Linked DNA regions of Homo sapiens: region 2 is linked to region 1. The links come from fine-mapping of genetic effects on gene expression. A gene starts in region 1. The other region holds a variant in brackets. All regions are shown on one strand. Distances are from middle to middle.

Evidence for each region. PIP is the estimated chance that this variant, and not a neighbour inherited with it, causes the effect. A credible set is the group of variants that fine-mapping cannot tell apart.
Region 2: its variant is the best candidate, but not a certain one, in a credible set for the expression of ZNHIT1 in whole blood (TOPMed, PIP 0.88).

Annotation. Positions count from the first base shown.
Region 1 is chr7:101,216,150-101,220,530 of GRCh38, reverse strand. It overlaps ZNHIT1 (zinc finger HIT-type containing 1), which reads right to left and starts at 2,366. Exons shown (of 5, transcript NM_006349.3): 1 at 2,314-2,366. The coding sequence starts at 2,335. It overlaps PLOD3 (procollagen-lysine,2-oxoglutarate 5-dioxygenase 3), which reads left to right and starts at 2,950. Exons shown (of 19, transcript NM_001084.5): 1 at 2,950-3,365; 2 at 3,745-3,836; 3 at 3,985-4,121; 4 at 4,205-4,368. The coding sequence starts at 3,257. RefSeq lists enhancers at 2,019-2,560, 2,654-2,773, 3,322-3,844 and silencers at 2,874-3,153, 3,294-3,343, 3,404-3,523.
Region 2 is chr7:101,276,103-101,280,483 of GRCh38, reverse strand. No RefSeq gene overlaps it. Among named protein-coding and RNA genes, the nearest start is that of LNCPRESS1, 21 kb to the left of the region's middle. The variant G/A (reference allele first, on the strand shown) is at 2,088.

The DNA.
Region 1 (4,381 bases):
CCCCAATTTACCAACATTCAGAGATTAAGAAATGTGTCCAAAGTTCACATAGCTAACAAGTGGCCAGGTCAGGAGTCAAAGAACTACCCAGCATCAAAAAGCATGACCTTGCCAGGCGCAGTGGCTCATGCCTGTTATCTCAGCACTTTGGGAGGCCAAGGTGGGTGGATTGTTTGAGCGCGGGAGTTCGAGGCCAGCCTGGGCAACATGGCAAAACCATGTTTCTACAAAAAAAATACAAAAATTAGCCAGGTGTAGTGGGACACACCTGTAGTCCCAGCTATTCAGGAGGCTGAGGCGCAAGGATTGCTTGAGCCCAGGAGCTCAAGGCTGCAGTGAGCTGTGTTTGTGCCACTGCACTCCAGCCTGGGTGACAGAGCAAGACCCTGTTTCAAAAAAAAAAAAAAAAAAAAAAAAACCCAAAACCAACCAAACAAAAAAAAATATGATTATGATCACTGTACTACTCTGTCTCCCCTCCAAATGCCAGGCAGTGCTCTAGGTTTTAGGGATGCCAAAGCTTACAGTCCAGTGGCAAACACAAATGATTAATGAAACAAACACAGTAAGTACAGCATGGAGTAGGCTAGGATACGGAAGTATAAAGTGCTGCAGAGCCCAGGACAGAAACACCCAACCTGGCCTTGGAGTAGTCAGGGAAGACTTCCCAGAAGAAGGTAAGTCTAGGTTAAGGCCTAACTGGTGAATGACCTGGCTAGGGGAGACAGCGGGGTATTTCAGACCTTGAGGCCAACATGAAAAAACTGATGGCTGGGAGACTGCGATGCCTTTGAAAAACTGAGAGGGCCAAGCGCAGTGGCTCATGCCTGTAATTCTAGCATTTTGGGGGGCCGAGGCGGGTGGATCACGAGGTCAGGAGATCAAGACCATCCTGGCTAACATGGTGAAACCCTGTCTCTACTAAAAATACAAAAGATAAGCTGGGTGTGGTGGCGGGCGCCTGTAGTCCCAGCTACTCCAGAAGCTGAGGCCAGAGAATGGTGTGAACCCGGGAGGCAGAGCTTGCAGTGAACCGAGATTGCGCCACTGCACTCCAGCCTGGGGGACAGAGCAAGACTCCGTCTCAAAAAGAAAAAAAAAGAAAGAAAGAAAAACTAAAAGGGCCAAGCGCAGTGGCTCATACTTGTAATCCTAGCATTTTGGAAGGCCGAGGCAGGAGGATCACATGAGCTCAGGAGTTCAAGACCAGCCTGGGCAACATAGTGAGACACCCATCTCAACAAAAAATATAAAAACTAGCCCAGCATGGTGGCCTGCACCCACCTGTAGTTCCACCTACTCAGGTGGCTGAGGTGGAAGAATCACTTGAGCATGGGAGGTTGAGGCTGCAGTGAGTTATATAGAACCACTGCATTCCAGCCTGGGTGACAGAGCAAGACTCTGTCTAAAAAAAAAAAGTCTTTGCTGGCTCTCCAGTGTTTCCCTACAGAGTTCAAACTCCTGGGCAGTGTGTATAATGCCTTTCAAAATGTAACCTTTCCCCAGCCTTCGATCCTTTCTTATTACTCTGTAAGATCCAAACTGTGAACTTGGCTTCCTAAGCGACTTGCTTTTTCTTGCTTCACTGCCTTTGCACGTGAGGTTCCCACTGAGAGAAACCCTAACTAGACTTTCAAGACTCAATTCAAGCTTTTTCATTTTTCCTTCAAGCTTTCACAGTCCCCTGCCTCCCAGAACCTGGGCTAGATGCCACGTCTCCCTGTTCCCAGGCGCTGTGCTTCCCTCTGCCATAGCACAAATCACAAATCACAGTAAAATACAGTGTTAGGTCTGCGTTTCTGCCCCCCTTCCAGAAAAAGCCAATGCTTGGATAAGAGGGGTCTTTCTCCTCTTCATCCCCAGCGCCCGGCTTGGAGCAGGCACCAATAAAACGTGAATGAAGGGTCAACGCCAGGACCCGAGGGCTGAGGAAGGGATTTACGAGGAATAGCTGGGGCCGGGCGCGGCAGCTCACGCCTGTAATCCCAGCACTTTGGAAGGCCCACGCAGGAGGATCGCTTTGAGGCCAAGAGTTGGAGACCAACCTGGGCAACATAGCGAGAGCCCGTCACCACATAACAAATTAAAAATTAACCAGGCGTGGGGCCTCATGCTTGCAGTTCCAGCCACTCCGGAGGCTGAGGTGGGAGGATGGTTTGATCCCAGGAAATCGAGGCTGCAGTGAGCTATGACTATGCCACTGCACTCCAGCCTAGGCGAAAGAGCGAGACCAAAAAAGAGGAATGACTAGGTAAGAAAATTCTAGGACTGACTTGGGAAGGGGAAGGGGGCGAACCGCGGGGGCTCACATACCCGAAGTTTTCTTCTCCACCATTGGCACAACACAACTGTCGGAAGAAACTGCTGCGCACGCGTACTAACCCCAAGGCTTTAGTAGGGGCGCCATCACTTCCGGTAGCTTGTACTTCTGCGCGTGCGCCACAGCTTTGACTCATTACGTGGCGTTTCCTTGGAGACAAGAAAGCTTTTCGCCATGTTTTATAGGGGCAAAACCACTTCCGGCCTCAGTGTGGAGGTGTAAATCTTGTGGGAGCCACGAAATGGGTCATTTTAAAGATGTGGTCACGGTGTTCTTACAAGAAATCTTATTTTCCTTTGGTCCTTGTGAAGATGCTGTGATCACAAAGGCAGCCCCTGGAGCTTCTCCGGGCAGAAGAGGAGGTGGGCTGGACTGTCAAAGAAAGTGGCTGGCTTCCGTGGGCAATCCGAGGTTCCTAGTGGCCCTCTGCAGAAAGCTGAACTCCCAGTTCCCCCAGGCCTCCGTCCCGCGGCGGACTCCTAGGCTTCCTCCCTCCCTGTCGCCGCCAGCCTCTCGCTCTCCCCGTCTTCCGCCCGCACTCTCTGGGCAGGGCTGCGGCCAGGACCCGCCCCCGCGTCCCGCCCGACCCTCCGCCAGGGGTCACTTCCCCTGTCCAGGTTTCAGCTTCCACATGTGTCAAGCGGCTGGCTCAGCCCAGAGTCCCTGTCTCCCGCCCGCCGGCCCGAGCCGCCGCCCCTCCCCCGCCTCCCGTGCGCCCGGGACAATCCTCGCCTTGTCTGTGGCGCCGGCATCTGGAGCTTTCTGTAGCCTCCGGATACGCCTTTTTTTCAGGGCGTAGCCCCAGCCAAGCTGCTCCCCGCGGCGGCCGCACAGCAGCCCGAGCGCCCCCTTTCCAGAGCTCCCCTCCGGAGCTGGGATCCAGGCGCGTAGCGGAGATCCCAGGATCCTGGGTGCTGTCTGGGCCCGCTCCCCACCATGACCTCCTCGGGGCCTGGACCCCGGTTCCTGCTGCTGCTGCCGCTGCTGCTGCCCCCTGCGGCCTCAGCCTCCGACCGGCCCCGGGGCCGAGACCCGGTCAACCCAGGTGAGATCCCGGGGAGGCCCGGCACGGCCGAGGGGGCAGAGGCTGGCGTGCCTGCCAGCCTGGCCCGGAGAGGGTCGGAGGCTCGAGGAGGTGTCTGGCCCGTCCCCCGCCCAGCGTGCTCTTGAGGCTGAGTCGCGCCAAGCCCCTCGCCCATCACTACCCTGAACTGGGGTTTCCAGCCTCCCTATGCAAAGGGACTCGGAATTCCTGGGCACCACTCCCACCCTGCCCTCCTTGGGGTCAGAGTGTTCCTGGGTGAGAAGAGTTTAAGAATGGGAAGGAAGAAAGGGAGGGAAGTCGAGTGAGAGGGAGGACAGCAAAGCACGTGAGGCCCGGAGCTGGGCGGTGGATCTCAAGTGCCATTTCCCTCTGGTAACAGAGAAGCTGCTGGTGATCACTGTGGCCACAGCTGAAACCGAGGGGTACCTGCGTTTCCTGCGCTCTGCGGAGTTCTTCAACTACACTGTGCGGGTGAGGAGAGGGAAAGGCCCCTGGGAGGGGGTCCCAGCAGGAGGGGTGGGCTGAAGTCTGGATGCCCAGGTCCCCACGGTAAGCCTGGTCAGGAGTTCCCCCCACAACTCCCCACCCCTTGCCTGGCACGGGGCAATCTTCTCCACAGACCCTGGGCCTGGGAGAGGAGTGGCGAGGGGGTGATGTGGCTCGAACAGTTGGTGGAGGACAGAAGGTCCGGTGGTTAAAGAAGGAAATGGAGAAATACGCTGACCGGGAGGATATGATCATCATGTTTGTGGATAGGTAACGGGGCTGGGGATAGGGAGCGGGGTAAGGATGCTGAGGTTCCCAGTGGACCCCTGCCCATCCTCCCCTTCCTCACCCAGCTACGACGTGATTCTGGCCGGCAGCCCCACAGAGCTGCTGAAGAAGTTCGTCCAGAGTGGCAGCCGCCTGCTCTTCTCTGCAGAGAGCTTCTGCTGGCCCGAGTGGGGGCTGGCGGAGCAGTACCCTGAGGTGGGCACGGGGAAGCGCTTCCTCAATTCTGGTGGTGAGTGGCAGAG
Region 2 (4,381 bases), 60 kb before region 1:
GAAGCTGCAGTGAGCCGTGATCACGCCAGTGCACTCCAGCCTGGGTGACAGAGTGAGACCCTGTCTCTAAAAAATTAAAAAAAAAAAAGAGGCCAGGCACAGTGGCTCATGCCTGTAATCCCAGCACTTTGGGAGGCCGAAGCGGGTGGATCATGAGGGTCAGGAGTTTGAGACCAGCCTGGACAATATGGTGAAACCCGTCTCTACTAAAAATACAAAAATTAGCCAGGCTTGGTGGCACACACCTGTAAGCCAAGCTACTTGGGAGGCTGAGGCAGGAGAATCCTTCAACCCAGGAGGCGGAGGTTGCAGTGAGCCAAGATCACGCCACTGCACTCCAGCCTGGGTGACAGAGCAAGACTCCATCTCAGAAAAAAATAAAAATTAAAAATAAATAAATAAATAAGAGAAATGGGATTTGGAGTGAGGCCAACCCAGTCTCAGTACCGACTCTACCACTTACCAGCTGTACATGTGCCTTATTTTCTCCATTTGCAAAGTGCAGAAAACAGGACCAAGCTTGCAGGGTTGCTGTGAGACATCGCCTGCCAGCCTGACACGTGGTAGGCAGTCATTAGATCAGGGTCTTCCTCCCTCTTTCCCAGAGCCCCCACCTAAGCTCCCTCCCCTCTGGAACCTTGGGACACACACACACCTGTAATCTGAAATAGCAGCTGCTACTTCCCTGACCCTCCTCTGACCCCCAAGGTTGCCCTGTCCTCTATCCCCCCACAGAGTAGTGCCAGGCACAGAACAGATGCTCCAAAGATATGAAAAGAATGAAGGAATGAACGAAGCAGCCACCACCACAGTTTCTCATGGGGCGTGTTCCCCAGAGGCCACGAGCCTCTTTTTTTTTTTTTTTGAGACAGATTCTCACTCTGTCACCCAGGCTGGAGTGCAGTGGTGTGATCTCGGCTCACTGCAACCTCCGCCTCTGCCTCCTGGGTTCAAGTGATTCTCCTGCTTCAGCCTCCCAAGTATCTGGGACTACAGGCACACACCACCATGCATGGCTAATTTTTGTATTTTTAGTAGAGACGGGGTTTCAACATGTTGGCCAGGCTGGTCTGGAACACCTGGCCTCAGGTGATCTGCCCGCCTCAGCCTCCCAAAATGCTGGATTACAGGCGTGAGCCACGGCGCCTGGCCTGGGCCTGGATTCTTGTACATGGCATTAGGGCACCCCTGTGAGTTGCCCCAAGGATCACATGTGCACGACTGTGTCATCTGAGCAAACTCCCCCAAAGGGTGTCTGCATTCCCCACAGCCATTGCTGGTGCTAACAGGACAAGTTCCAAAAAAGAAAAGCTTTTAAAAATGTTTTATTGATTTATGTTTGATTTTTGGTAGAGATGGGGTCTTGCTATGTTGCCCAGGCTTGTCTTGAACTCCTGGCCTCAAGTGATTCCCCTGCCCCGCCGCACCTCAGCCTCCCAAAGTTCTGGGATTACAGGTGCGAGCCACAGTGCCCAGCCTGAAATCACTTTCTAAATTTGCCCTTTTCATCATGTTTTCCTCTTGTAACCGTTTTATGTCACGTGTACCCTGAGGCCCCCTGACAGCCCCCCTTGGGTCCCCTCTGCAGCCTCTTGTGTTATATGTGATCGGAGCACCCCCAGAGCTTCGTCATCCGTGACGAGCACCCGCCCTCTCTCCAGTGGGAATCATCAGCTGATGAATAAGGGCTGATTTCTTCTCAAATGATCACCACCCCCAATTCATTACATTCCAAAGACTGAGCTCAGAATGGCTTATCTGATGCTTGGTGCGGTTGTGCTTTTTTGGAACGCCGTTCATTGAGGACGCAGGTTCTCTCCCGTGTGATGCTCTTGGGCGCAAGCTGTGACGTGGGTTCCACGCTATTCTGTGCCACGTCCTCCCCTGTGATTTTCGCATCTCCGATAACTGCTTGCCTCCGTCTGAGGATTTTCCTCCGCTGGTGCCATTCATTGGGAGTCTCTCTAGTATGAATTATGAGATGAATGGAAATTTTCCCTCATTCATAATATTCAAAGCTTTCCTCTGCCCTGTGAATTCTTTGATATTCTTCCAGAATCCTGACCAAATATTTTGCCATGTGTATC[G/A]GGCCAGTAGAGTTTAGGCTTAGAGTCTGCAATTTCCCCAAAGTGGTAACTTTCTTTTTTTTTAAGAGATGGGGTCTTGCTCTGTTGCCCAGGCTGGAATGCAGTGGCATGATTATAATTCACTGCAGCCTTGACCTCCTGGGCTCAAGTGATCCTCCCATCTCAGCTTCCTGAGTAGCTGGGACTACAGGCACACATCACCATACCTGGCTAATTTTTTTTTTTTTTTGAGACGGAGTCTTGCTCTGTCTCCCAGGCTGGAGTGCAGTGGCATGAACTCGGCTCACTACAACCTCCACCTCCCGGGTTCAAGCGATTCTCCTCCTGCCTCAGCCTCCCAAGTAGCTGGGACTACAGGTGCGTACCACTATGCCCAGGTAATTTTTTGTATGTTTAGTAGAGATGGGGTTTCACCATGTTAGCCAGGATGGTCTCGATCTCCTGACCTCAAGATCCGCCCGCCTTGGCCTCCCAAAATGCTGGGATTACAGGTGTCAGCCACCGCGCCCGGCCCCATTGAGGAATTTTAAAATTCCATTTGCTGGAAGAACCAGCCCGTTTTCTGTCTGTTACATGGCTATCTTGAAATAGTCCTGCCTGGAATTGCTTGAACCTGGGAGATGGAGGTTGCAGTGAGCTGAGATCGTGCCACTGCACTCCAGCCTGGGTGATAGAGCGAGACTCCGTCTCAAAAAAAAAAAAAAAAGAAAGAAAGGAAAAAGAATAAGAAAGAAATAGTCCTACCTCCACAGTCCCTTCTTCAGCCTGTCAAAGCCAAAAAGTTTCCCAAGATCCTAAGTCTAGTAGGCAAGAAACACTTCCAATCCCTATTAAAGCCATGTTCATGAGGGAACTCAAGTTTTCTACCCACAGGCACTGGAATTTCTGCTGTGGGAACTGGGGGACGTTCTCGAGCCATGGAAGCCTTGAGGCCGTTCGGACTCAAGAATGTGATGATGCCCTCAGTTTCGTGAGTCTTGTATTCTGGTTTATTTCTGCTCCACTATGTCTGAGGCCTCCTGTTCTCGCAGCAGCTATTGGGGCTGAAATGTCCAAAGTGGCTTTTGCAGTCACGTGACTGGTGCCTCATGTTCTTCCACTTGGTCTCTCTTCCCGACAGAGCAGCCTTGTTGTCTAGTACAGTTATTGGGCTCTGAGAACCCTCTATGGATGCCCTAGGCCATTGCACCATCACCTGTGCTACCCCTGGCCCCTCCATGGAAACCGCTGCCCAGGCAGCTGTGTGACACCATGTGACCCTGCCTCTCTTCCACCCACCAAGTCCCCAAATATACAGTTCACTGGACCAGGATCCCATATAGGCTGGCCAATGATTTTTGAAGTCATCTGGCTCAAAAATTTAGGGAAGTCACCCAGGCCAGCCAATTCCCTTTTGGAAACTGGGGCGGAAAAAGCAGACAGTAGAATTAGTAAGCCACAAGATGTCCTGAGGGCAAGTAGGGCCTGGTCGGACCAGTGTGCTGGCCGAAATTACACTGGAGAAGAAACTTGGCCGTTGAAGCAAAACCAAAATCAGCTATACCATGGAGAAAATCCCCTCATTGTGGAGGGAAAATGAGCTTGGCTTTGGCAAGAGGATAAAGGAGGAGAGGGTGACAACAGAGTTGGGACTCCACAAAAGGCCGAGACAAGCCAACCCTGGGCTGCCTTCTGCCTGTGGGTGTCACTGCTGCCAGTTTGCCGCTCGTTCCCTTGGCTGTCAGTTGGCTTAAAAGTGGGCAGATGACTTAGCTGTGCTGGTGAAACATATGGGGATTCCCGGCCCATGCAGCATGCCGTCCCACTTGCCAGGAGAGGTGGCTCACGCCTGTAATCCCAGCACTTTGGGAGGCCGAGGTGGGCGGATCACCTGAGGCCGGGAGTTCGAGATCAGCCTGGCTAACATGGTGAAACCCCGTCTCTACTAAATATACAAAATTAGCAGGGCATGGTGGCACATGACTGTAATCCCAGCTACTCAGGAGGATGAGGCTGGAGAATCACTTGAACCTCGGAGGCGGAGGTGCAGTGAGCCGGGATGGCGCCACTGCACTCTAGCCTGAGTGACAGAGTAACACTCCGTCTCCAAAAAACAAAAACAAACAAAAAAACAACAAAAATTAGCTGGGCGCAGTGGCAGGTGCCTGTAATCCCAGCTACTTGGGTGGCTGAGGCAGGAGAATCACTTGAACCCGGGCAGCAGAGGTTGCAGTGAGCTGAGATCACGCCACTACATTCCAGCCTGGGCAATAGAGTGAGACTTTGTCTCAACAACAACAACAACAACAAAAGTA